Homo sapiens: one gene and its partners. The protein of the gene in region 7 interacts with the protein of the main gene of each other region in a biochemical or structural test. Each region holds a gene or a part of one and is shown on either strand. Other genes may lie near its edges.

The links.
Region 1: the proteins of DLG2 (region 7) and SHKBP1 interact in a test that uses a peptide from one of them, tested with the Homo sapiens proteins (one large-scale study listed by IntAct).
Region 2: the proteins of DLG2 (region 7) and GJC1 interact in a test that uses a peptide from one of them, tested with the Homo sapiens proteins (one large-scale study listed by IntAct).
Region 3: the proteins of DLG2 (region 7) and EVI5 interact in a test that uses a peptide from one of them, tested with the Homo sapiens proteins (one large-scale study listed by IntAct).
Region 4: the proteins of DLG2 (region 7) and MAP4 interact in a test that uses a peptide from one of them, tested with the Homo sapiens proteins (one large-scale study listed by IntAct).
Region 5: the proteins of DLG2 (region 7) and DENND5A interact in a test that uses a peptide from one of them, tested with the Homo sapiens proteins (one large-scale study listed by IntAct).
Region 6: the proteins of DLG2 (region 7) and IGSF5 interact in a test that uses a peptide from one of them, tested with the Homo sapiens proteins (one large-scale study listed by IntAct).

The regions. Positions count from the first base shown.
Region 1 is NC_000019.10:40,575,493-40,579,968, reverse strand, and holds the start of SHKBP1 (SH3KBP1-binding protein 1), read right to left. Parts: upstream 3,097-4,476; 5' UTR 3,070-3,096; coding exon 2,984-3,069; intron 2,739-2,983; coding exon 2,685-2,738; intron 2,574-2,684; coding exon 2,528-2,573; intron 2,413-2,527; coding exon 2,339-2,412; intron 1,847-2,338; exon of another isoform or gene 1,816-1,846; coding exon 1,757-1,815; intron 1,508-1,756; coding exon 1,427-1,507; intron 1-1,426. Other genes in the region: SPTBN4 (spectrin beta chain, non-erythrocytic 4), read right to left, coding at 4,400-4,476.
Region 2 is NC_000017.11:44,802,468-44,806,480, reverse strand, and holds part of GJC1 (gap junction gamma-1 protein), read left to right. Parts: intron 1-643; 5' UTR 644-663; coding exon 664-1,854; 3' UTR 1,855-4,013. UniProt on the Homo sapiens protein: One gap junction consists of a cluster of closely packed pairs of transmembrane channels, the connexons, through which materials of low MW diffuse from one cell to a neighboring cell.
Region 3 is NC_000001.11:92,774,719-92,778,731, forward strand, and holds part of EVI5 (ecotropic viral integration site 5 protein homolog), read right to left. Parts: intron 1-4,013. UniProt on the Homo sapiens protein: Functions as a regulator of cell cycle progression by stabilizing the FBXO5 protein and promoting cyclin-A accumulation during interphase. May play a role in cytokinesis.
Region 4 is NC_000003.12:48,009,749-48,013,761, forward strand, and holds part of MAP4 (microtubule-associated protein 4), read right to left. Parts: intron 3,770-4,013; exon of another isoform or gene 3,727-3,769; intron 1-3,726. UniProt on the Homo sapiens protein: Non-neuronal microtubule-associated protein. Promotes microtubule assembly.
Region 5 is NC_000011.10:9,198,933-9,202,945, forward strand, and holds part of DENND5A (DENN domain-containing protein 5A), read right to left. Parts: intron 1-4,013.
Region 6 is NC_000021.9:39,772,419-39,776,431, reverse strand, and holds part of IGSF5 (immunoglobulin superfamily member 5), read right to left. Parts: intron 1-4,013. UniProt on the Homo sapiens protein: Provides, together with MAGI1, an adhesion machinery at tight junctions, which may regulate the permeability of kidney glomerulus and small intestinal epithelial cells. Mediates calcium-independent homophilic cell adhesion.
Region 7 is NC_000011.10:83,471,646-83,475,658, forward strand, and holds part of DLG2 (disks large homolog 2), read right to left. Parts: intron 1,133-4,013; coding exon 1,082-1,132; intron 83-1,081; coding exon 1-82. UniProt on the Homo sapiens protein: Required for perception of chronic pain through NMDA receptor signaling. Regulates surface expression of NMDA receptors in dorsal horn neurons of the spinal cord.

The DNA of each region.
Region 1 (4,476 bases), on a different chromosome or scaffold from region 7:
CTCTGCCTCCTGGGTTCAAGTGATTCTCCTGCCTCAGCCTCCCAAGTAGCTGAGATTACAAGCACCCACCACGACACATGGCTAATCTTTTATATTTTTGGCAGAGATAAGGTTTCACCATGTTGGCCAGGCTGGTCTCGAACTCCTGACCTCAGGTGATCCACCCACCTCAGCCTCCCAAAGTGCTGGGATTACAGGCATGAGCCAATGTGCCTGGCCCTAATTTTCACTTTTAATAAATGGAAGACTGCACCCTTGGCAAGCAATAGCATCTAGCCAGAGTTGTTTTTCGTTTTGTTTTGTTTTGAGACAGCATCTCGCTCTGTCACCCAGGCTGGGGTGTAATGAGTGATCATAGTTCACTGCAGCCTTGACCTCCTGGGCTCAAGCGATCCTCGCACTCCAGCATCCTAAGTAGCTGGGACCACAGGTGCATACCACCACACCTGGCTAATTTTTTTTTATTTTTAGTAGAGATGAGGTCTTGCTGTGTCACCTGGGCTGGTCTCAAACTCCAGGTCTCAAGTAATCCACCTGTCTCGGCCTCCAAACTGCTAGGATTACAGGTGTGAGCCACTGCTACAGGCCAGAGTTTAATAACACTGCTATGTTTGGGTTTTATTTTCATGTTTACTTTGTATTTATAATATAAAGCTTGCATTTAAAATGATTATTATTTTTTTAATTAGCCGGGCATGGTGGCGAGTGCTTGTAGTCTCAGCTACTCAGTGGCAGAGCTGAGGTGGAAGGATGGCTTGAATCTGAGAGGCAGAGGTTGCAGTGAGCCAAGATCGCACCACTGCACTCCAGCCTGGGTGACAAAGCCAGACCCTGTCTCATAAAATTAAATAAATAAATAAATAAATAAATGATTGTTTTTCGGAAAACAGGATAAAACTAAGTTGGAAAAGTACTACTACAGATCTTTATATCTGGCAACTTTCATGAAGGTAGCAGGTGCTGACTGCAGTTAGGGAAATAAAGCTGTAGATGAAATTTCCCTACTCTGTTACTTCTACCAATCAGAAAAGCCTAGTTCCAATAACCACTGGGGCATACCTTCCATGGCCAGTGGGCTGGCTATCATGGGCATTACTGTCAATAACTTCCTATTAATATTTCTCCCCTCCATACGAAGAATCCCAGGTCTTCCAAAGCCCCCCCTACAAAGAAACCAAACCCGGACTACAACTCCCATGGGGCTCCAGGACATCCTTCTGAGCCTCAAGAGTTAGCTGGCCCATTGTCTCATGGGAAATGCTGTGTCCAACTTCCTTTCCAAGCATCAGCCCAAGCATCTGATAGGGAACTACACCTCCCACTGTATCTCAGGACGCACAGCACAGGCACCCGAGAGCTGCAGCCTTATGGGAAATGTAGTCTTTGGCCCACCTCCGCGCCCCTCCATTCCATTGGGAGTGCCTACCTGGTGGCGGCAGGTAACCATTGAAGAGGACGTTTCCACAAGAAGATCGATCCAACTCCTCTCGAAGCTGCAGGCGACGAACTGCAACAGGAGGACTTAAAGGCTGGGACTTAGGGAGATGCTGAGGCCACCCCATTTCCCCCTCCCCATTTCTTTCTACACAGAGTACCAATACTCCTCCCAGTACGAATACAGACCCGGCCAGGGCCATAACCAGTCCTCCCACCTCTACCCCAGCCCTCTTTCAGGAGAGAAGGGGAAGAGGGGCAGGTAGCATCACAGAGTTGGTTTTCTATACAATGAGGATGATAGCTGGGGGCTCCCACTTACCCAGAGGAGTGAGCCCATAGAACTGGGCTTCATGGAGGAGGCTGGAACCGTGGACACCCCTGGGTAGTAGAATTGACTAGAGGTCAGGGTCTAGGTGTGGGGGTGAACAGAGAATGCTGAGAGGGTAATTTTCAAAACTGCACAGAGAATGTCAAGGGGTAGAAAGTTTTGATGGAATAAAGATGCTAAGGAGTGATGATATGGGTGGAGGAAATGTTGAGTGTGTGTGTGTGTGTGTGTGTGTGTGTGTGTGTGTGTGTGTGTAGGGAGAAATCGAAGGACATAAAATTTTAACATGATCAAGATTCTCATGAAGTTTTGCCTGTTTGCTTTTTTAGAGAAGGGGTCTCGCTATGTTGCCCAGGCTAGTCTCCAAATCCTGGGCTCAAGTGATCCTCCCACCTCGGCCTCCCAAAGTGTTGGGATTACAGGCGTGAGCAATCCCGGCGCGCCCGGCCTGTGATCAAGGTTCTGAATGAGAATTCTAATAGAATGGAGCTCACGTGGACATTCAGAGGAGGTGAAAGAACTCCTCAGGGACTGAAGACAGTGAGGGACTCCCTCCCCTTTTTCCATGCCAACCTGGGATCCAACTCTTTGGTGCGCAGGAAGTTGAGGATGGGGGCGAAGACTGTAGGGTCCCTGTCGATGAAGATCTGCGGGAAAGGGGGGCAGAGGATGGATGGGGTAAAAGGCAGGACTGAGTGGGGTCCTGCCCCTCTTCCTACCAACCCCTCCCCCCCATCCCATTTCAGTTCTTGTCCGACTCACTGCTCCGGTCTCATCTTTCAGCGTCGAGATGCGTCCGCTCAGAAGACTGCAGGGAAGGGACACCGAGCAGGCGTCACGGGCCGGGGGAGTGGATATTAGGTCTCCCACGCCCTCTCCATCCCTCCTACCCTCGCCCCAAACTCGCTCTCCCGATCACCTGGAGAAGAAGGAGTCTGGGATCCAGGTGAGAGTCTGGCGAGAGGTACTGAATCTGGGCGGGGAAGGTAAACGGACGCAAGAGATGAAGAGGAGCGGGTGAGGAATGCGTCCCCCTCCCGCAGGATCCAGGGTTCCCTCCCCTTCCCCCTCCCCCGGCGTTTTTCCAGAATCTCGCGCCTCCAAAGGGGGGGGGGGCGGAGCAACCCTTGATGGACAGGGATTCCCCCAGGAGAGGCGGATACTCCCACCCCGCTTCCCGCCCCCGAGGATGGGACCTCAGGAGTCTCCCACACTCACCTCTTGCCTCCCACATTCAGATGAATGACTTCCCCGGGAGGCCCCCGACTGGGGACCCCCTCGGCTGCAGTAGCCGCTGCTGCCATGGCCCCCGGGCGAGCCGGCTGGCCCGCACCCACTTCCGGGTGTGCACCCGGACCCCGCCTCCATAGGCTGCTCATTGGGCCAGAGACTCCAGGAGTCACTAGCGATTGGACAGAGCGCCTGCCCATCGCGGTTAACTTTTCCGCCTCCTTAAAGGGGTCCGCCTTTCCTGAACTTGACGGGGCGGACCCGGAGTCTCCTTTGGGGAAGTTTATTACGAAGCATAACGAAATATTCTCCATCCCTCTAGGTTCTCGTCAAGGGGCGTGTGTTTAGACCCCGAAATTAAGTCCACATAAAAGGGTACATCTGGATGTTCTCCGCAGCCACGGTACCCCCGTGCCCCTCTCCCCACCCCGCACCCACCCCTACAGCCACCACAGCCCTCCTTTCAATCCTCCCGGGCGCAGCCCAGAAAACCCAAACAAAGGACCATAGACCGTCAAAGCCAAAGGGTTTATTATAGGTACATACAGTGTGCGCCCGCCACACCGCCCCACACCCCCGGGCCCCAGCGGCTTCTCCAGGCGGCCATGGGGACTGCCCACAACCCAATCCCCCGACTCCCCAGGGAGGTGCTCCAGCCAGAAGCATGCAGGGGTGGGCTTCCCCTCGCCCCTCCCCTCATGAAGTGGCATTTACAACTGGAGGGGGGAGGAGAGAGGAAAACAGTTTTGAGCTTTGACGCCCCTCCCATTAAAAGCCTTCGCGGATGCGGGGCGGGGGAGGAGGAGATCGACGTTTTGCAAAAATAAACTAAGTCAGGAATTAACCGCATGGCTCTGAGGCGGCGGAGTGCAGGGGGCTAGGGCCCCTTCACTCCCCCCTCCCAGACAGAGATCAAGGCAGCATTGGAAGTGAGGTAAAGGCGGGGAGGGGGTGTCCCCTCCCTGCCCCCTAGCACCCTGGATGGTCCAGGGGACCTCACCAGCGCCCCCGTGCCCATCCCTAGGGCAGAGAGGGGGGCAGGAATTACTGCCCCCACCACCCCAGCTTCTTGGGGCAGGATCTGCAGATCGGGGCTGGGGGCTTGGCTCAACTGGCCCCCTGCCCACCCCCATCAAGCTCAGTTATTGCATAAAAATAAGGGACCCCCAGCACCTGGGGTGGGGGTGGTGAGTGGGAAGGGGCCGAGATATGGCTATAGGGGCAGCAATCTCCCCACCACTTCTTGGGGTGCAGGAGAAGTCCCCTCCTTTCCGGTGCCCACCATGTCACGCGTCCTCAGTGTTGGAACTAGGGGCTCCCGCCCCTGCGGAAGAAAAAGTGTCTTTGTGCCCACAGTGCGGAAAAGAGGGGAGACGAGATGTGTCAGGTCCTGGGGGTGGGAAGTCACTTCCTGCGCCCGCTGGCCCTGCGATCTCCGCCTTCCCTCTTAGGGTTGCCCTCATCTGTGGATGAAGTAGTGG
Region 2 (4,013 bases), on a different chromosome or scaffold from region 7:
TTGCAGTGAGCCAAGATCACGCCACTGCACTGCAGCCTGAGCGAAAGAGGGAAACTGTCTCAAAAAAAAAAAAAAAAAACAAACAGAAGAACCAAGGTCTGAGAAATATCTCAGTAAATAGTAGCTACAAGTTTACCTTTTAAACCAGAGGAGATATGAAAGCAATCCATACTTTCTGGGACCTTGTGGGGCCAACAGGTGTTGACTGAGGTGAATTGACCTTCTTGAAGATAGTAGAGAGTGAGATGCTGTTTATTCTTTTTTTTTGAGATGGAGTCTTGCTCTGTTCAAGCAATTCTCCTGTCTCAGCCTCCTGAGCTGCTGGGATTACAGGTGCACACCACCGTGCCCGGGTAATTTTTGTATTTTTGTAGAGACGGAGTTTCACCATGTTGACCAGGCTGGTCTTTAACTCCTGACCTCAACTAATCTGCCCGCCTTGGCCTCCCAAAGTGCTGGGATTACAGGCGTGAGCCACCCTACCCAACTGAGATGCTGTTTATTCTAACATTTGTTCCACTGTGAACCTTGAGGTTAGATTTCAAGTATTCAAAGCAGTAGTTCCTAGAGATATCATAATTAGTAATTAAATTAAGATTTAATATTTGTTGATTTTATTTTGGTATTTTTCCACTTTTATCAGGGCATACCAATTCAATCACCATGAGTTGGAGCTTCCTGACTCGCCTGCTAGAGGAGATTCACAACCATTCCACATTTGTGGGGAAGATCTGGCTCACTGTTCTGATTGTCTTCCGGATCGTCCTTACAGCTGTAGGAGGAGAATCCATCTATTACGATGAGCAAAGCAAATTTGTGTGCAACACAGAACAGCCGGGCTGTGAGAATGTCTGTTATGATGCGTTTGCACCTCTCTCCCATGTACGCTTCTGGGTGTTCCAGATCATCCTGGTGGCAACTCCCTCTGTGATGTACCTGGGCTATGCTATCCACAAGATTGCCAAAATGGAGCACGGTGAAGCAGACAAGAAGGCAGCTCGGAGCAAGCCCTATGCAATGCGCTGGAAACAACACCGGGCTCTGGAAGAAACGGAGGAGGACAACGAAGAGGATCCTATGATGTATCCAGAGATGGAGTTAGAAAGTGATAAGGAAAATAAAGAGCAGAGCCAACCCAAACCTAAGCATGATGGCCGACGACGGATTCGGGAAGATGGGCTCATGAAAATCTATGTGCTGCAGTTGCTGGCAAGGACCGTGTTTGAGGTGGGTTTTCTGATAGGGCAGTATTTTCTGTATGGCTTCCAAGTCCACCCGTTTTATGTGTGCAGCAGACTTCCTTGTCCTCATAAGATAGACTGCTTTATTTCTAGACCCACTGAAAAGACCATCTTCCTTCTGATAATGTATGGTGTTACAGGCCTTTGCCTCTTGCTTAACATTTGGGAGATGCTTCATTTAGGGTTTGGGACCATTCGAGACTCACTAAACAGTAAAAGGAGGGAACTTGAGGATCCGGGTGCTTATAATTATCCTTTCACTTGGAATACACCATCTGCTCCCCCTGGCTATAACATTGCTGTCAAACCAGATCAAATCCAGTACACCGAACTGTCCAATGCTAAGATCGCCTACAAGCAAAACAAGGCCAACACAGCCCAGGAACAGCAGTATGGCAGCCATGAGGAGAACCTCCCAGCTGACCTGGAGGCTCTGCAGCGGGAGATCAGGATGGCTCAGGAACGCTTGGATCTGGCAGTTCAGGCCTACAGTCACCAAAACAACCCTCATGGTCCCCGGGAGAAGAAGGCCAAAGTGGGGTCCAAAGCTGGGTCCAACAAAAGCACTGCCAGTAGCAAATCAGGGGATGGGAAGACCTCCGTCTGGATTTAATCCTGGCGGGCTTAAAACCTGTGCTTTTCATAGTTTATGGTAAGCAGCAGCTCACTGAATAATGACTTCCATTGAGTAAACATTTGGCTCTGGTTATCTTCAGGGATGCTGTTGGCTCATGATCCAAGCTCAGGGGACTCTGGAGGCGGGGCTGGGCTGAGGGAGAGAAAGGGAAACACAGTGTTCCCAGGCACATGTTCTTAGCAATAATACAGTTGCAGAACTTTACATTTGTGTCTTCCAGATCTGGAGAAGAACAGACATATTTAAATCATTCTTGTTGAACAGTTTTTGTATGTACAGTATTATGGTACTTTTTTTTTTTTAGTATGAGAACTTTTTTTGTATTTGTACATTGAACTGCTGTAGTTATACTTTTATATTAAAGGGGAAAAAGTCCTTATAAATAATGCCTATTAGGCTAGTGCTATTACTTTGTTCAGCAAATTCTACCCTGGCTTTAGAGTTTTTAATAGATGCTACACCTAATAAAAGTGCCTCTCATATTGCAGGAACGATTTCAGATGTGTAAGGAGACTGAAGAGGAGATACCAGTTTTTAGTCTTGGAAAGCAAGTTCACAGTAGAAGGAGGTTGAGATCTTTCTTTTATGTGAGAAATCTTTGAATCTCATTCATGCGATCAGAGTTGTAGCCAATTTTTGAAAACCTTATTTTCAAAGGAAATAAATGATTCACTGTAGGATTCCTTTAAATATCAAGCATCACCAGTATATGCTTTGATGGTATATGTATATAACTTAAAGTTCTTTCAAAAGCCTGATACAGAAACGTGTCCCCAGTTTGGTAGCAATGTGGAAAACCTGGCTAGAGATGATATGGAGCTGTCCCTCAGAAAGCAAAGCCATGCCTGGAATCCCTAATAGGCTGCTTAGTTGTGAACCTGTTTGATTTGCCTTAAGCCTCTATCCAGAAACCTGCCCGCTTCCGTCTGGTTAAGAAGCCAGTGGTGGATATTTTCTTTGTTAACATTAGAAATGCAAACATTCCCTTGTCAACCAAGAATACTCAAAGCTACTTGTATTGGAAATGGCAGAAGGCCTAAATCCAAATTTCTTATTTTTTATAATTTACCATAGAAGTTTTGTGATTAAATTCTTACTTCTGCCAGTGGAGGTTTATGCCTGAAAGGTCATGGGGTCCTGTCTGTAAATAGACCTAAAGAGAAGTGCAGTATTTATTCTTTGTAGGCATAATGTGTTTGTCACTGACAAGCATTCATGTTCATCCCACTAGTCTTTTATTGCAGTCTTTTATTGTCATTTTCAGCCTTATGTTGGAGAGCTTTGCTTTCTCATCATGTTCACATTGTCTTAAGTTTTGTGAGCTTCTGAGAAAGAGCTTGGTAAAGGTTTAAAGGGGACTTTGTTCCACCAGGGAGCATTTTATTTGGGCGTCTCACCCTTTTCTAATGAAAGCTGTTGTAAGCCACCTCTGACTTGGAAATTCTGAAAGTATGAATATTTTTTATATCTTAATTGTAAAATGCCAGTTCTCCATTATTTAGATGAATAGTAGAACACTGCACCCTTTGTGCAGTGTTTTTGTTTCTCTACTGCATTCCTACCCCCACCAAAAAAAAGAAACTTAAGGAAATTTTTTTTTGAGACAGGGTCTCCCTCTTTCACCCAGGCTGGAGTGCAGCAGCATGATCTCAGCTCACTGCAGCCTCTGCCTCCCAGGCTCAAGCAATCATTCCACCTCAGCCTCTTGATTAGCTGGGACTACAGGCATGTGCCACCATACTCGGCTAATTCTGTTTTAAAAATTTTTTTTGTAGAGATGAGGTCTCACTATGTTACCCAGGCTGGTCTCGAACTTTTGGGTTCAAGTGATCCTCCCGCCTCAGCCTCTCAAAGTGTTAGTATTATAGGTGTGAGCCACCATGCCCAGCCTAGAAAATTTAACCTTATCTTTTAGCCATTCATTTACTTTTATTTGCTTTTTTAAAAAAAAATCTTTAAATTTTAGCCTAGAGAAGCACCTCAGGAACTCTAAACATCTTAGGCAAAAATTAAACTCAGGTGAGACTGAAGGAGAAATTTCAGAAATACACATGTACCTCATGGGTAATTAATAGACATGCACAGTTTCCTTCAAATCAAATGTTTAATAAGGAAATTCATATAATTCCAAGAAA
Region 3 (4,013 bases), on a different chromosome or scaffold from region 7:
TCAGAGAGTTTAACTGTGTGAGTTGGATGAGCACAAAGAACAATGAACAAGGCACTAAACCCACATTGGTTTTGGCCACTTAAAAGGATAAACTGCAAACAGTACAAGCAGAGAAAGCTCTCTTGAAGTAAACAGCTAAAAATGCAAAATAAACATACCAGGCTAGTAGCAATACCTAGTGAGAAATGAGATGACACTTTGCAAGCAAACTTAGGGGGTCACAATCAACAGGTTCTAACAACAATTAATCAATCTACATTCTTCCAATGAGGAAGGACTATCGTAACACCATGAGAGATAGTAAAAATTCCCCATGTCATCTGATTGATATCTTGAATTTTATATACAAACACAAAAGTAAAATACAGTCATGCACCGCATAAGAACATTTCAGTCAATGGATACCACATATAAGAGGGTAGTCCCTGCCTGAGCATAGTGGCTCACGCCTGTAATCCCAGCACTTTGGGAGACTGAGGCAGGTGGATCATTTGAGGTCAGGAGTTCAAGACCAACCTGGCCAACGTGGTGAAACTCCATCTCTAATAAAAATGTAGAAATTAGCCATGTGTAGTGGTGTGTGCCTATAATCCCAGCTACTGGGAGGCTCAGGCAGGAGAATAGTTTGAACCCAGGAGGCAGAAGTTGCAGTGAGCTGAGATAGCGCCACTGCACTCCAGCCTGCGAGACACAGCGAGACTGCATTTCAAAAAAAAAAAAAAAGAGGGTGGTCTCATGAGATTATAATATAGTACTTTTGGTGTATCTTTGCTGTTTAGATACACAAGTACCACTGTGTTACAACTGCCTACAGTATTCCATACAATAACATACTGTACAGGTTTGTAGCCTAGGAGCAAAAGGCTATACCATATAGCCTAGGTGTGTATAGTAGGCTCTATTATCTAGCTTTGTCTAAGTGTATTCTACGATGTTCATGCAACAGTGAAATTGTCTAACAACTCATTTCTCAGAACATATCCCCATTGTTAAGCAACACATGACTGACTGTTACTAACTTGTGGTAGAAAGAAAAGGCCAATGGGGATTTTGTGCAGTTGAGAAGCAGGCTTCTGTATTTTATAAAACTTGTTAAAAATTAATTTGAGGCCGGGCACGGTGGCTCACGCCTGTAATCCCAGCACTTTGGGAGGCCGAGGCAGGTGGATCACGAGGTCAGGAGATCAAGACCATCCTGGCTAACACGGTGAAACCCTGATTCTACTAAAAATATCAAAAATTAGCCAGGCGTGGTGGTGGGCGCCTGTAGTCCCAGCTACTTGGGAGGCTGAGGCAGGAGAATGGCGTGAACCCGGGAGGCGGAGGTTGCAGTGAGCCAAAATTGCGCCACTGCACTCCAGCCTGGGCGACAGAGCAAGACTCCATCTCAAAAAAAAAAAAAAAAAATTAATTTGAAGAGCAATATGTAGAGCTCGCAGGTTTTTATTTTTTGCCAAATATTAGAAGGAAAAAATCTATCTACTATCTAGAATCACAACTTCATAAGAAAAAGGGCATTTTAACACAGAAAAAGGATGGATATAATTTAAAGGTGAATAAATTGTATAAACATTGATAACATTTCTATTTCATCATGAACTTCATGGTAAAAATTCTAACTCAAAGAGCAACATTTGGGAAGCTACTGACTTAGTGTTTTAAAGAAAATAAAAATATAGAATGTCAAAGAATAACAAAGCTATTAGAGATATTTAAAATAGAGACTTTAATGGGTGGTTTTATCATTCACTTTATGTTAACTATACACTAAAATCTCCACAACTTTATTAATCTTTAGTAATAGCTCATAACTTTTTCTAGTCTAGAAGCTTTTTTCAAAATAAAAAATTCTGAGTACTACCTCTCCCCATGATTGGATTTAAGCATTACTAAATGAAATGATAACACCATCATGACTTTTTTTTTTTTTTTTGAGATGGAGTTTCACTCACTGTCACCCAAGCTGGAGTGCAGTGGTATGATCTCGACTCACTGCAGCCTCTGCCTCTCATGTTCAAGTGATTCTCCTGCCTCAGCCTACCAAGTAGCTGGGACTACAGGTGCACACCACCATAGCCAGCTAACTTTTTTTTTTTTTTTTTTGAGACAGAGTCTCGCTCGTCGCCCAGGCTGGAGTGCAGTGGCAAGATCTCAGCTCACTGCAAGCTCCGCCTCCCGGGTTCACGCCATTCTCCTGCCTCAGCCTCCCGAGTAGCTGGGACTACAGACGCCCGCCACCACGCCTGGCTAATTTTTTGTATTTTTAGTAGAGACGGGGTTTCACCATGTTAGCCAAGATGGTCTCAATCTCCTGACCTCGTGATCCACCCGCCTTGGCCTCCCAAAGTGCTGGGATTACAGGTGTGAACCACTGCACCCAGCCAATTTTTTGTATTTTTAGTAGAGATGGGGTTTCACTATGTTGGCCAGGCTGGTCTTAAACTCCTGACCTCAGGTGATCCAGCTGCCTCAGACTCCCAAAGTGCTGGGATTACAGGCGTGAGCCACCACCACGCCCGGCCCATTATGACTTTTTAATAAATTTTATTATATATTACAAATATGCAAGAACTATTATTCATGCAACATTTAATGTACACATGGATTTCCAGACCCCTTGCAGAGATCTACAGCCCAATCCATTTCTCCAGGCACTCATCTCCTCCTACCACAAGTTTCTCACATTTTAGGCTGGACAATTCCTTTAGAGAAGGTATCAAATAGCTCGTTAAACCGGATTATCTTCAAAATCACTTCCAATCTTGAGATTATAAGATCCTGGGACAACGAGTACTTCTAAAAAGAATTTTGAGACTCCTAAAGAAATGATATCTTGACCAATATTTAGGTCCTCTACCTCCTGACACTCTTTTCAGACAACTATGAAGAAATTTAAAAGGTATAACCCCATAAGGAGGAGACAACAATGGAGGACAGGTGGCAACAAGTTTCTGTATAATGGAAAGCAGACAGTGGACTTCCAAGGTGAGATGGCAGATTGAACACACACACATCTAATTTTGCTTCCTCCCAAAACGTTACTAAAACAAGGATAAAGAAAGTTGTGTTATTGTTGTTTGTTCTGTTTTTAGGACACAAGCCATTATGACAGGGAGAATGAGACAATAGCAACAAAATTTTGGAAGCTGGAAAGCAGCTGGATAACTGACCTAGTCAAAGATGCCAAAATCTTTTTTTTTTTTTTTTTGTGACGGAGTGTCACTCTGTCGCCAGGCTGGAGGTGCAGTGGCGCAATCTCAGCTCACTGCTACCTCCACCTCCTGGGTTCAAGCAATCCTCCTGCCTCAGCCTCCTGAGTAGCTGGGACTACAGGCGCACGCCACCACGCACAGCTAATTTTTGTATTTTTAGTAGAGACGGGGTTTCACCATGTTGGCCAGGATGGTCTCGATCTCTTGACCTCATGATCTGCCTGCCTCAGCCTCCCAAAGGGCTGGGATTACAGGGGTGAGCCACTGCACCCCGCCAAAGATGGCCAAATTCTAAGCCAGCAATGCTGACAACTAAGAACAAACCGGTTTATGCCATAGATTCCTCAAAAGGCTCAGGAACTGCCAGAACAAAGAGTGGAAGGGGGACTAAAAGAAAGGAGCAAGTGAATGCTGAACAGTTAGAATCCCAGATTTCTTCCAAGCTGCTGAGTGGCCCCACCCTCAATGTGGCAGGTGACAGATTTCTCTTCTCAAGAGGGTAAACCATACAAGGTGGAAGACATAGGCATCCTAACAGAGACAGATTGTGTGAGCCCAATATACTAAATGTTCTTTGGCTCCTTACCCAACCCTCTTTTCCTGAGTTCCCAGATACTGACAACCAGACCTCAACTCTCCAAGCAGAAAACTGGAAGATACTCTCTGGAAAATATGACTGGGACAAAAGGAAAGATAAATACAGTGGAGACAGCCTCAAACAATCCACCCAGATCAATTATTTCAATCTTGGCTACACACTGGAATTATCTTGGCAGCTTTAAAAAATACTGGTGCTAATCT
Region 4 (4,013 bases), on a different chromosome or scaffold from region 7:
CACTCACCATCACCCCTAGTGATCCACTAGCAAAATTTTTGCTTCCTCTCCTGCAACATTATGTTCTGCTGGCCTAGAGGTCTTAATTCCAGAGGGAAGAATGCTGCCACCAGGAGACACAACAATGATTCCATTAAACTGGAAGTTAAGATTGTCACCTGGACACTTTGGGCTCCTCCTCCCTTTAAGTCAACAGGCTCAGAGGGGGAGTTACAGTGTTGGCTAAGGTGACTGACCCAGACTATCAAGATGAAATCAGTCTACAACTTCACAACGGAAGTAAGGAAGAGTATGCATGGAATACATGAGACCCATTAGGGCATCTCTTCGTATTACCATGCCCTGTGATTACTGTCAATGCAAAACCACAACAGCCAAATCCAGGCAGGACTACAAATGATCCGGACCATTCAGGAATGAAGGTTTGGATCACTCCACCAGGAAAAAAACCCATGACCTGCTGAGGTATTTGGGGAAGGCAAAGTTAATACAGAATGGGTAGAAGAAGGTAGTCATCAATACCAGCTATGACCACGTGACCAGCTGCAGAAATGAGGACTGTAACTGCCATGAGTATTTCCTCCTTCATTTGTTAAAAACATGTTTGTGTATGTATACACATGTACTAATATCTTCACTTTATATTTCCTTTTCCTTTATCATGTGACATAAGATTTATTGATTTCATAACAGCATTTAAGTATTATTAACTTTATGTAATAGTATTTGGGTTGGGGATTGGTGTGTTTCTGGTTGTATGAAGGATAGTTTTATTACATTAGGTGTAATTATGACCTTATTATTGTCTTTATTTTAAGATTACATACGATCTCAGATGTATATGGGTTCAAGTTGACAAGGAGTGGACTTGTAATGTTAATACTGTCAACTTGATTGGACTGAAGGATGCAATATTGATCCTGGGTGTATCTGTGAGGGTGTTGCCAAAGGAGATTAACATTTGAGTCAGTGGGCTGGGGAAGGCAGACCCACCCTTAACTGGGTGGGCACCATCTAATCAGCCACCAGCGAATATAGAGCAGGAAGAAAAACATGAAGAGATGGGCCTAGCCTCCCAGCCTATATCTTTCTCCCGTGCTGGATGCTTCCTGCCCTCGAACATCGGACTCCAAGTTCTTCATTTTGGGGACTCGGATTGGCTCTCCTTGCTTCTCAGCTTGCAGACAGCCTACTGTGGGACCTTGTGATCACGTAAATCAATACTTAATAAACTCTCCTTTGGAGATATATCCTATTAGTTCTGTCCCTCTAAGAGAATCCTGACTAAAACAAGTAGTGTGGGGCTCGTGACAAAAACTGATAGCTTTGCTGCCAAAGGGGCTCCTGTGGCATGACAGAGCTGTTGTCCACAGCAAATGCCATCTCACACTACTGGAATTATAAATTCCACTATTTGAATAACCACTGCCGAATTCAGGATTTAGCAGCTTTTCTGAAGGAACCATAAATAGGAATTCAATGGTTCCTATAGTAGGAACTGGACTTGGTAATCCCAGCCTGTAATCTCCCAGCACTTTGGGAGGCCAAGGCGGGTGGATCACTTGAAGCCAGGAGATTGAGACCAGCCTGGCCAACACAGTAAAACCCTATCTCTACTAAAAATACAAAAACAGAATAACTAGCTGGGCACTGATTTTTATTATTTAGATGGTATGCACCTGTAATCCCAGCTACTCAGGAGGCTGAGGCAGGAAAATTGCTTGAACCCAGGAGGTGGAGGCTGCAGTGAGCCAAGATCACGCCACTGCACTCCAGCCTACGTAACAGAGCAAGACTCCGTCTCAAAAAAAAAAAAAAAAGTTCCTATAGTAGTAGTGGCACACCTGTGACCCATTTACAACAGACGAATGTGGGTGGGAAGCCCTATTCTATGCTCGTCCAGCCTACTTTACATATAAAGTATTATTGTAACTCCAGATCATGACAGGGAAAATGCTGAGAAATGAGTTCATTAAAGAGCTTTTAAAAGCCTAACAGATTATAATGTCAAAGGGTTCCATGAAAAGCAACTATTCAGTTGCTTTTACTATTCGGTTATGCCATTTCCCTATTCTATCTCTGACAACTATTATTAGTAGTTATCCTTTGGGAGCTGTTATGAACCAAAAACTAAAAAGGACGTCTGTAACTAGTTTTGATAGAGGCAAGAGGCAAACAAATGTCTAGGCAGACAGGGGCGGGTCCTCAGTGAAACCCGAACTTTAATCCGGAAACTGTCCTGGGTAAATCCTGAGATCGGATTAAGAACCTGCCTTCCCGTTTGGCATGATTGATCCCCATCCTTCACCTATTTAACCTGTACCTACCCTTTCCTAATTGGTTTTCTACACTGTCCTGCCCACCTTGGAGTGGTGTCTTCGCTTTGACCTTTTTTGCATACTCACAAACCAATGACCACACACTCCCATTCTGAACCAATAAAGAGCCCCAGGCTCAGCCATATTACGGAACTTTCCTGTCTTCAGGTAGTAGAACCACCTACCATGTTCTCTCTTTTTGCTAAGAGCTTTCCTTTCGATTAATAGATTCTACTCCACTCACTCTTTGATGTCCACGTGCCTAATTCTTCCGCTCCTGAGATAAGAACCTGGACCTAGTTGAGCTAAGGAGCAAAAATCCTGCATCAGTTTCATGGTCAAAGAGAACTTAAAAGGACATCTGTGCCATCCTTAACAACATACCATAAAAATCCAAAATTTAATTTTCCCCAGAAATACATAATGACATAAGATGCAATCTACTCAAATCTTTTCCTCATTTAAGGCACAGGGTAAAAATACAGTCAAAAACACCAATACATTTTAAATATCATTTATCAGAATGCAGATTATCAAAGGGCAGCTTTTATCCATTGTAATCTTTCCCCTATCCAACCCTCAGCACCCCCACCCCGCCCCCAGCCACACACTCTCAGATGACTTCCTGGGCTGCATGTGGTTCATGGAATATGAACAGTAGCTGAAATTCAGCCTAAGAGGGTAAAACTGATAGAAAATTATACAATTGGAAAGTGGGAAGGTCATGAAGCTATGAGCACATCTAGCTAGCCACTTAGCATCTGTATTTCATCAACAGTTAAGCTATTCTTTACTTGTCACCACATAAATAGAATATGATTTTAAAATACACACACACACCCCCTTATGGAAAATGATCCTAGAAAGGTAATGCTAGTGTCATCTTTCAAGTTAAAGTACTGTTGTTTTTTTTTTCCCAGAAATCCCCAGTTTTCAATAAATTAAAGCGATTATCCAATTTTATAGTTATTTTATTCTGAAACATGTATAAGTACAATACACTCTTTAAATGCTCTATAGATGTTAAACTGGTTCAAGTATTCCAAAATTAATTTTAATAAATTCATGTATGAATTTCATCTCACACAGAATCACTTGAAGTTACTTACTATTCGGTTATGCCTTAAATGCTTAGTTACATATTTTATGGATAAAAGGATATGACACTATTATTTTCAAATCTGGATGTTCAGGAGGATCAAAAAATGAACCCTTGTGAATGAGAAGCATTTACTCTAAAAAAAAAACCTCTCACTGACCAATTGACCATTTATACTATTCCTCTTCTATCCATACAGATAATAAAGTTAACTTTAAATAGATTTGTGAGTAAGAGTCAAGAGAATTTGAAAGCTGGGTACAGAAGTCTGTATGCTTTACTGAAGCACCAGTTTAATCTGACACTCACTGTGGCCTTGAATGAGTCACCTTTCAGGGCTGAGTTCTCTAATCTGTAAAATGAGAGTGTTATGTTAAATGTTTACTGAGGTTGATTATTCTATCAGCTACTTGTAATTCAGCTGCATCATTTCAGTTAGCTATAAATAAACCCCCTAAGACCCTCAGTGTGAATATGAACAACTATCATTTCATATTATTTCATATATCAAGTATTCTCATTTATAATTGGGTTGAGGTTTATTAAAAAAAAAAAAAAAAGCTTTTTGGCAAAGGGAGGGACTGAAAACAAATTCA
Region 5 (4,013 bases), about 74 Mb from region 7:
TGGTGTCCTAGCTACTCGGGAGGCTGAGGCAGGAGACTCACTTGATCCCAGGAGGCGGAGGTTGCAATGAGCCGAGATCATGCCACTGCATTCTAGCTTAGGCAACAAGAGCAAACTCCGTCTCAAAAATAATAATAAATAATAAATAGTTTAACTATAAAATTAATTGTACATATCATTTTTAGGATTCTGTGACTTAACTGACTTTTTTGGTTTCCAATCAACTACTCTATCAGGCCACTTCAGATAAAGAGCTTCTGTTCTGCATATAATTTTTAAATAAGGCCAGGTGCAGTGGCTCATGCCTGTAATCCCAGCACTTTGGGAGGCCAAGGAAGGTGGATTGCTTAAGCCCAGAGTTCAAGATCAGCCTGGGCAACATGGCAAAACCTCATCTCTACAAAAAATACAGAAACTAGCCAGACTCGGCAGTACATGCCTGTAGTCCCAGCTACCCAGGAGGCTGAGGTGGGAGGATCATCTGAGTCTGGGGAGGTCAAGGCTGCAGTGAGTCATGATTGTGCCACTGCACTCTAGCATAGGTGACAGAATGAGACCCTGTCTCAAAAAAAGTAACAATAATTTTTTAACAACCAATTAAAAATTATGCTATTAAAAAAACACTAATTCTATATGGACTAAAGAATAAATATTATCTAAAAGTAAATAAAATGACCTATACCAAAAAGAAAACACTGCTTAAAACTGCCAATTCAGCATTCCAAAGGGTTACACTTTCAGAATCTTACAATTCAGCCTGCATTCCTTTTCCCTATGTAACACCTCTTTTCTATTCAGAGGGCAGGACATGCAGCAGGCAAAATCAACTGCAGTGGTGATAGCTTGTTTTTGGCCAGAGTGATTTTTATCCATACAAGGAAGATGTCCTTGGATCATTAATATAACTACTTCAAGAAAACCAACCTAAATTGTTTAAAGCACTCTATTAACAACAAAAAGCATAATTTACATCCAATGAAAAGTAATCCACTCCACTGTGGCCTCAGCCAGGCTCAGCAATATCCAGGAATTTCTGAAAAAAGCTTTCTCTTGTCCATGCTGAGCCTGACTTTAGGTCCTAAGTTAAATTCAATTCTACATACTAACCATCTCAATTACATTCAAACCTCCTAAAATTCTTATTATGGATACAGTAACCCATATTCTAGGAAATACAAAAGAAACTCAGATGGAAGAATGTTATTTTTCCATTATGTTCATCATATTTGTTTCAATCATCCTTTCCTTGCCTCTAAACACCCCCAATGCCTAAAAGCCTACTGTATCTTCTAACACTCTATATAGTTTGGTTTCCTCCTCTCTGTTCTGTTCTAAACCAGAGAAGTTCCTCCCTATTCAACTAATTCTCCATTTCAAAGTATTTTTATGAAGCTCCAGCCAAGAAATAGCTAGGAAAGCAATATGATTTGTCCAAGTCTATATTTCACCCAGAGAGAGGAGGCTCTAACTTCGTATCTTAAACTAGAAGTTGCAAAGTGAAGCCTCAGGAACTACATTCAGCCAGCAGATGCTTTTTGTTTGGCCTGCAGTGTTTAAAAAGAACATTATTGCCAATATTTAAAAATCAGAGATTTCATGTAAAAAATCTGGGTCCTCATCAATTATTGGAATATTTAGTAACATCAGGCCAGTATACCCACAAGGAATTAACTGGAGCTAATTAGCGGCTATCCACTTTATATGAGGTATGTGCTCTTCAGTTCAACATAGTTTCCATTACTTCACCTTCAAACTATATCCAGAACCCAACCATTCCACACCACTTCACTGTTATCTCCTTAGTTCTAACTGACATCACCTCTCACCTGGATTATTACAAATTACCTCTTAACGGAACTCTTTGCTTTCTTCCATTCTCCCTTTGGGGATATACTCTTAATATAATGGCCAGAGTGATCCTGTTAAAAGCCTAAGTTATTCATTTATTTAACAACATTTATTGAGCACCCTTATATACCAGCCACAGTTTTAGTGCTTGGAATCCATCAATGAGCAAAAAGCAAAAGCCCTGCCATTGTGGAGGTCCATTCCTTTGCCCATGGACCAAATCTGGGAAATTTGAGCATCAAAATAAATAATTATAGTGAATTATAACCTGAGTAAAATAAAAATCTATGAATCCATACAATAATAAACAAAGGAGAAAGAAACACTCTTCATTATGGTATAATGCCAATTAATAAATAAAGATAAAGTTTGAAAACCACTATTCTGCCAGCCTGGGCAATAAAGCAAGAACCTAGCTCTACAAAAAAAAAAAATTTTTTTTTAATTAGCCAGGCATGGTGGTGGGCACCTGTAGTCCCAGCTACTCAGGCGGCTGAGATGGGAAGATCACTTGAGTCCAGGATATCAAGACTGCAGTGAGCCATTATTGTGCCACTACACTCTAGCCTGGGTGATAGAATAAGACTCTATTTCTTTAAAAAAAAAAAAAAATTTTAAGGCTGGGCACAGTGGCGCCTGTAATCCCAGCACTTTGGGAAACCAGGCAGGAGGTTCAGCCCAGGAGTTTGAGACCAGCCTGGGCAATGTAGCAAGACCCCATGTCTACAAAAAATAAAAAATTAGCCAAGCATGGTGGTGCATGCCTGTAGTTCCAGCTACACGGGAAGCTGAGGTGGGAGGATCACTTGAGCATGGGAGGACGAGGCTGCAGTGAGCCATGAAGGCACCACTTAACTCCAACCTGGGCAGCAGAGTGAGACCCTGTCTCAAAAGGAAAAAGAAAAGAAAAAGAAAATCACCTTTTTGCTACTATTCTTGAAATAACTGATTCAGAATAGAATCATCAATAAATGCTAAACTATTAGGCATCCATAAACTGCAAATATAATTCAAAAAATAAAAACTAAAAAAAAAATGGTTAGGCAAAACTTTAAAGAAGAACAGAATAATTAGTTTCAAAGTATCTCCCCATGACTTACATGTTAATTACCAAGGGAAAAATTATAACTTTCCAGTTAAGAAACCACAGACACCATCTTAACCAAGTAAGCAGATTAGTATCACCAAAAATGAGACAAAATGACATCATATGCCTGCCTCCTGTAATCATGAAAACTGACAGTATGTGCCTCCTAATATAATGCACTGAGAGAAGCACATCACTTCTATGGTATTTTAGGCAAAAATTTATAATCTGAATCTAATCATGAAAACATCAGACAAAACCAAATTAAGGGACAGTCTATAAAATAACTTGCTTGTACTCTTCAAAAATGTCTATGTCATGAAAGACAAAAGCTGAGAAACTCACAACTAAAAGCAATGCATGATATGGCACTAGATCCTGAATAAGGAATTTTTTTAAATTATCATAACAGACATTATCGGGTACCAGAGAAACTTTAATATAGTATTGTCTCAATGTTAGGTTTTCCAAATTTGATCAATGATAGTTATTTAAGAGAATGTTTTTATTCTTAGGAAATAAACACATGAGAATTTAGGAGTCACAATAACTCTCAATGGTTCAGTTATGTTCACACACAGAGATCATAATAAAGCAAATGTGGCAAAATGTTAACAATTGGTGAATTTGGGATAGGTTATACAAGAGTCCTTTGAATACCCCTCGCGAATCTTCCGTAGCTAGAAATTATTTTAAAATAAAAAGTAAAAAAAATTGAAAACTCTGATGGCTATCTAAGAGCCATTTAAGAGTAAAAGCCAAAGTCCTTACAATGGCCTACAAGATTCTATACCATCTGGCCTCCAGTTAAGTCTCTAACACCATCTCCTACTATACTCCCGCTCATTCACTCCATTCCATCCACCCAGCTTCTGGTTCTTGAATACACGAAGCACATTCTTGTCTTAGACCGTTTATACTTCCTGTGCCCTTTGCCTGGAATACTTTTCCTACAGATATTAACAGGTCACTCAGGGATGCCTACCTAACCACCCTATTACAAACTGGAACTTCTCTTCCCCAAATACTATCCCTTTCCCTGTTTTATTTTTCTTTATAACCCTTATTAAGTACCTTA
Region 6 (4,013 bases), on a different chromosome or scaffold from region 7:
TCTTTCACTTCCTATTTGTTGTGACCATGCTCCATTGGAAGGCAAATGTTCCAAGTTTTATGCCTGGGTGAGACTTAAGCTGAAGTCTCCCTTTAATCCACTGGAGCTCAAAGTGTAGTGTACGAGTCAGCAAGAGGCATGATTTAGTGCTGGGGCTACAAAGATAGACCTTTCTTATTTTCATAACCATTTAAAATTTATCATATATAATATATATTTTATATCTATACACATAGGTATACACACATGCATGTATATTTTTGTTTAGTATGGAGCTAATTTTTTTAAAAAGAGTGCATTTACTGTATACTGAAAAATAGATCATAGCCATATATTATTGACAAACCAAAAATCTGACAGTGGACAGAAAACACAGACTCTTGGAATGATGTCATCCATAATCCAATCTTTTCATCATGCAGACAAGACGCTCAGGACAGAGTGACTAAGTAAATGGCACAGGGAGCCCAGAACAGGAAGCCACAGGGCCACTGGCTCATATCTTTCCATCCTGCCATGTGTTGTCTCCAATGTAGAATAATCCTTCTGAGGAAAATATGGCCCAGGTATGACATAAATGTATTTGCATAAAGTCTACAGTGGGGTGCTGGTCTGTGCCTTGTACCCTATGGAGGGTGTGGGTGTGTCTGGCTCAGGTGAATGGCAGGTTTGCTGGAGAGGATGAGTATACTATACCTGAGTAACCCACACATAGTGACTAAGGAAGATTAGCTCCAAGGTCAACACTGCTTGCCTTTCTCCCTGCACTCCTTCACACCACTGTGTGCTTGTTAGGGCCTCATTACTGACTTTACCATGTGCTTTAACCTCCACTTGGAGATTGTCCTTTTCCCATCTGTGAAGAAAAGGAAAATAGCATTTCCCAGATGCTCTCAAAGGAATGCATAGAGTTTTAAAAAGGTATAGAATTTCTTAAAACCAAATGGATTAATATAAAATGTCACCACCAACACGTGCCAAGTACATATTAATACCAAATGTCACCACTATCATGTGCAAAGCATATCCCTGTGCCCACTAGAGGCGACACAAGAGATCTCCGAATCAATAGTGTGAATGACAATCACTCCCTTTCCAGTCCTATGTGCTCTGGAGCAAGGACCGTTCTAAAACTGAGGCTCAGAGAGGGTAAGTAATTTGCCCAGAAGACACACGGCTAGTGATTGTGTGAGCTGGGATTGGAACCCAGGCTGTCTAATGTCCAAGTCTGTGTAGACATAGCACTTGATCGGGCTGGAGGGGAAGGCTAGGCCTTAGAGATTTTTTTTTTCAGTTCAGTAGCCCCCAATCCTGGCTGCCCATTAGAGTAACTTGGGAACTTTTTTTACAATTGCAATTCCCAGGCTCCACAAAAACCAATGAAACAAAACCCCCAGGAGGAGGCTGAGCCTCAGCATATTTATAAAGAAGGCTCCTCTGCTGTCTCTGATCCACAGCCGGGAGAGAGGACTTCTCTATTCTTCTCCTACCCACTTTACAGGTGAGAAAACTGAGCCCTGAAGTTTGCTGACTTGCCCAAAGTTGCACCATCAGTGCCAGGGCAAAGGCCTAGGACTGTCACTTCTACTACTCTTCTCTGCACCCAAAATTGCCATTTCTCAAAACAGTAAGGTTATAACCAGGAATCACTACATTCCACAAGGTGCTCATGTGTCCTAAAAACATTACTTCATTTTAACCATTTCACAACCTACACACAAATAAGTGCACAAAGAAAACCACCCCGAGGGGCAGATGGCTCTGACAGTGCTTCTCCCAAGACAGGGTGAGACGGCCTCACTCTCCAGTTTTGGATACGTCTGCAATGCTCGAGGTTTGTATCATTTCTGTAGTTAAGAAAATCAATTTCTAAAAAACAGATCTGAAATGAATGTCAGCCCTCCCAGTATGTTTTTCTCTAAAGAAACCTTTTGAACTATAAACCAGGAAGTACTTCATACAACCCTGTGACTTGCCCTGACTGGATAAGCTTCCAAAGCTGACGTCATTCCTGTTTCAACGACTTGCAGGGATCATTTCAGAAATGAAAACAAATGCTTTGCACTTTTAGGAAATGGGTGGAAAAATGGATGTTTATATGATTCCTGAAGAAGCCTGAATGGGCACAGCCCCATTAACACTTGGCTCTCTGGAAACCTGGCTGTTCTCCTTACAGCCTCGTCTGGTCACCAGCTCCGCCAACCAAGGCTGCAATGAGGTCTTCAGCTAATAAAACTTACCTAAAACACACAACATGCAGCCAGCCACCAGCTGCACTGGATCTTGATGAATAATTTAGAAACAAATTACCCTGTTCCAAATGAATCCAATAAAGCTAGACTCATTGCAAGCACCCACTGAGCCTCCCTCTCCAGCAGCCATGCCTCCAGCTACCATCGTTAAGGCACTAGTTCTGGACTAAGAAGAATTCAGTGAATTTAACCTGACCAAGGGAAATTAAGTGCTCTCTTTCCCTTCCACTACAAAAGAAAACATTTGCAAGCAAGCCAGTCTCTAAAATCTATCTCTCTAAGGTACCATCAATCAGGCCAGAGCTCCTGCTGCATCGTTACCTCGTTAAGATATATGCTTTAACCAGTCCATTTTATTCCATTTGGTGCTAATGGATTTTTTTAAAATCTTCTCTTTCAAAGTTTGGACCATACTTTATCATATTTAAGTAGACTAACTTATGATATTTAAGGTTGGTTCTCTGGAGAAATGACTGATTCCAGGTGGAGACAGGGAAGTGCAAAGTGAGACTGGAACACCTTACTGGTCCAGGTGCTCAAAAACTAATAGGGGGATGTCGGAAGGACACCAGCACCAGCTTGGAGGGACACCAACTGACCAAGTCTGGAGCAATCTGGGTGTCAAAACGAAAAATGACAGGAATAGATTAGAATGTATTGGACAAAATTGAGTCCCTACTAAAACTGTGAGGAAAAAAAAAGAAAAGGAAGAAAGGGGAGGGAAGTCTTTTGTTTAACAAAAGAAAGCCAATTAAGAGATATGGAAAGAATAATGGAAGCAGGAAATCACTCTTTACAATCACCATAGAAGTAATTGATTCAGGCAATGATTTATCAATGAATGTAAAAGTTAGTAGGTAAAAAAAGAACAAAATCATCTCCTTTGCAAGGACGTGGATGGAGCTGGAGGTCATTATCCTTAGCAAACTAATGTAGGAACAGAAAACCAAATACCGCATGTTCTCACTTATAAGTGGGAGCTGAATGATGAGAACACAAGGATACATAGAGGGGAACAACACACACTGGGGTCTATCTGAGGGTGGAGGGTGGGAGGAGGGAGAGAAGCAGGAAAAATAACTAATGGGTACTAGGCTTAGTACATAGGTCATAAAATAATTTGTACAACAATCCCCTGTGACATGAGTTTGCCTATACAACAAACCAGTATGTGTAACCCTGAACCTAAAATAAAAGTTTTTTTAAAAAATTGTATTAGGTGAAAGGTTGTGGGTAAACAGGATATTCCCACAATATCTATTGGCTACATATTAATTATAAAGTCAAAAAAGGTACTTTTATGTTGGATAAATTCAGGGTATGCCACCTTCACCAAACGGTCAAACTTACGCCAATGAAAATTGTCATCCTGTGACCACATTACATTACCTATATCTTGCCAAAAATATGTAACCTAAGTCAAAGTATGATGAAAAATTTTAGACAAATCCAAATTGATCCAAATTGATCCAAACTGACCCAAATTGAGAGGCATCTTGCAAAAATAACCTGTACCGTTCAAAAGTGTTTATCTCAGAAAAGACCATAAAAAATGGGACAACACCAAGTAAAGATGAAGGCAGAGAGGAGGGTGATGTTTCTACAAGCTAAGGAAGATGGCCAGCAACCACAAGGAACAAGGGGAGAGGTAAGGAACAGAGGCTCCCTCCCAGCCCTCAGGAGGAACCAGCCCTGATGACACTTCCAACCTCCAGGACTGTGAGAAAATCCATTTCTGTTGTTTAAGCCACCAAGCCTGTG
Region 7 (4,013 bases):
TTATCAGGGAATTCAGATATCAAGTCGTCATTGATCCGATCCTTCATGGGCCCCAGGATAATCACCGGCCGGGTGTAGTTTACTGCAGAATGGGAAAGGAAGATGTAGGTAAAGAGAAAGAGTTGGAAACAACTGCAAAACTGTCCTGCAAGGGTGATTCTTAATTGCCAGACAGTAAGAGATGCTAAGGGCATTACTTCACTGGATAAATTACTCATACAGCCTTGCATAGGGAAATTGATGTTTAACACTCAGGAGATTGGCAGTGCCTACTTTCTGGAATCTACTAGCAGGGAAAGGCAATTGCAGTATCTGTTGATGAAAAGAAACATTTGGAGGAGTTTTGCTTACTCTCTGGCTCTGCCTACATAATGTCAAAACAACTGAATTTAGTCAACTGAGTGGGAGAAAAAAGAATCCAAACCAGCTGTTTGGCTATTGTTTAGATATGACTATAAAAAGTAATTGTTAGTAGTAATAACATCTTATGTTTTCATGATTTCTTTTCCCCAGATCAAAATACTCTCTATACTTTGCTACAGTTTCTAGATTTCCTTGTATCTGGGATTAGAAGGAACCTGAGAGTTCATTGGGTACAAGTCCCCATCTGATGCTTGAATTCTCTCTGCAGTATCCTTGTCAGTAGCAATTAGCCTCTGTATAAATGCCTCCAGGAAAAAGCAGCAGCTTACAGATAGCCTACATCTTAGGCAGATCTGCTAGAAAGTCATTCTCAATACTGAGCTGACATCAGTCTCTCAGGAGAATTTATTCACCAGTCTCGTAGCTAGTGCTCTTTAGGTAATTTGAATGTGTTCCTTCCCATTGAGGACCACTCATCTGGAGGGCTGCATCCTTCTCTTAGGTGCTATTAGTGCCCATACTCAGCAGGAAGTTGTCTGTTTGGTGATAGGGTCAAAGAGAGAGAAAGTGAGAGACAGCGTAAGAGTAAGGTACGGTCTCAAGACAACAGAGCATTAAGCCGAGTTTATTCTCCTTAGTCCTTCACTCTTTCCCTCCTTCAATGATGTCACCTCTTATGGCCCAGAAATTAGGAATGAAAGCGTGCTGGGAAACTTACTTTCCTGCCTTGTAACAGGCTCATAGGAAAGAATGAGGTCTTCTTGTCCTCCTGAGAAGAGAAGGAAAGAAAACCACAGTGAACTAACAGTCATATATTACAGAGACAAGCCCTGCTCTGAAACACAGGAAACAGACACAGCTCAGAGTTAATTCTCCTTGCTCTTTCTCCTTGAACCATTCAAAAATAACTTCATCCTCATAAAACTCTTTAGCACCATTTTAGTATCAGATTTTCACAGTCATAACTCTAAGTAATAACTGGTTGCTAGCTATTTGCTGCAGGGCAATGACCTGTGAGACTTCTTTCTGTCTGGCATTGAGAATGGAATGCCATGGCCTCTACACCAAGCATTACTACTTAAAAGGAAGCCATTTAGTTCAAGGAAAGGGTCCAATTCAATAGATGGCTGCTACATAATCAGAATTGCTGTACCTTTTATTTCATCTTCTATTTTATTTCCCCAAGAAGCACACTGTTCAAAAGCAAGTATATGCTTATTTCATTTATGATATAAAAACTTCATCAGGACACTCAGGGTTTTACTCTAATATTAATTCGTCAGGAAAATGCTGTGGGTCAATTAATGAAGATCAAAAATTGAGGTGTGTCCTACATCATTGGTTATAATTGCTGCTAAACTGTGCGTTGAAACTTCAGATAGAGAACTAAGGAAGACACAGTAGTAAAATGTCAGCCCCTCCAATGTCATCTGCTACAAGCCTTCTGACTCAGGGTGGACCTCAAGTCAACAAATAACCATAGAAAGTAAATTGGTTTTTGCCATTTATTTTTTCAATCATCTATTTTATATAATTGATGAATTAATTGGTCAGAGGATTAGCTCAATTTCACCTGCAAACCCGGAAGTGTCTGCATTTTTTTTTGCATTGACTAACCTTTGGAACAGCAATAGGTTAGGGCTGTTGAAAAGAACTTTCTGTCTACTAGAAGAAATAGTGGAGCAGAAGTGGAATATGAGGTAACTTCTGAAACCAAAGGGCAATTCACCTTTGCTGTATATCCTCACCACCCACCCCTGAAGCACATTCATAGTCTATCAATGCCAGGTTTTCCTCCTTCAACAGCCACAGCACCACAGAAAGAGAGGTAATTTCATAAGAAGAGTTAATATGATCGACTGTTTTGATAATGAGACTGATTTGGGGAAATTGAGCAATATGTGGGTATAGCTGCGAAGTTGGATGACTTCCTTGGAGGCTGGGTAGCTGGAATGGGATGGGGATAGGAGTGTCTTACTTTTTCAAGTGTGAGAAATGGCCTCAGGCTGAAGTCATATCTTATCTCAGTCCCAAGGAGGGCCTGGGCTCAGAATGGCGCCACCATGCCAAGCTACTTCTTAAGGGTACAGAGAGTGGACCTTGATGCTCCTCCTAAGTGGTATGTACCCATGGCCACCCCAGAAGTGTTCAGGGGACTCTGCCACATTGGTCAGGGGTTTGGTCAGTGAGGAGTCAGATTCACTATTTCTTGTACTCAGGAAAAGAATGATTCCCTTTGAATAAACTACTGAAATGTACAGAGCCTAGGCCAAAAAACATGAAGGTGATTGATTACTAACCCCCAGTTATCTAAAGCCTGAGCGATGTAGAGGGTATACGCATTCAAGGTTTTAGTTTAGTATTACTTCATCAGGAAAATGCTGTGGGTCAATTAAAGAAGTGTAAAAATTCTTGGGGAGAAAGTATAGTTTTAATGATAGAAGCATCGTAGACTAACATTGCAATTTTAGACTATAACTTTACAGGGGAAATCTTCAACAATTAATGTGCAAGGGAAGAATTCTGACCATGGGATAACAAAAGCTTTAAATGTCAGGTAACTCTTGGACCTCCTTATTAGGCTGGGAGTTTCATAAAGGCGAGAACTGAGTTTTATTCATCACCATGTCTCCAGTGCCCCATTGAGTGCTTAACATAAAGAAAGATGTCAACAAATTTGCATTCTGATTTCAGTCATGGGAAACAGGATGAGTGATGAGGCCAACGGTAGGTTCTATTTTGTGTTTCTGTCAATATGGTCATTTAACTTTGGAAAGCATCGTTTTCTCTAAATAAATAGAGCACATCAAGTTCCCATAAAAATCTCTTCCCAATGGCTTTGCAAATCATTCTGATGGAACGTTCTAAAGGCAAATCTTTAATAAGATATTTGATGTCAGTGTGTATGATTGCGATTCAGACAACTAGGGCAAAGCATAGCTTTGATTAATTTTGTTCAAGAGTTCTCTATCTCTGTCTATCCATCACTTCTTGGTTTACTTTTCTATGAAAGGCACTGGTTCTGGTTCTGGTTCAGAGCAGTAGTGTTGGTAGACAGCAATGGCAGCATCCCTTATGTCCGGGCCACCCCAATTCTCAAGACCTTGTGGCAATCAGGTACTGTGTAATACCCAGGAAGCCTGTGGGGAAACCCGTGGAGGTGGGCATGACATAATTGCTGTGAATTCAGCATCTTAAACTAATTTTTACTTCCATGTCCAAGAATGAAAAGCCCTATGGGTAATGAGGAAGAGACAAAGGGAAAGAGAAAAAGCCACTGTGATGAAGGAGAGAAAATTCATGTCTTTGTGGCACTTTGCGGGCCTTGAGGGGCTTTCATACCCACTGGCTTTTATGTCTCACAGGCATTGCTTGAGGTAGGTACTCTGATGATCCCCATTTTACAGATGAAGAAGCTGAGGCTCAGAGATGTTAATGAGCCCTGATTCCTCAGCTAGTAAGTAGTGGAGTCAAGATTTAATACTGCACCTTTTTCAACTCTTGTGGAGTATATTGCACTGTCTTGAAACAGTGAGAGAAGCAGAATTCTCTGTGGGGCAGGGTGGGTGGGTGTTGAGGTAAAGCTAACAAATGAAGAAAAAATTGAAGAGAGAGATAGGGGCTGAAACCAGGTCGGGGTTATTAAGAGG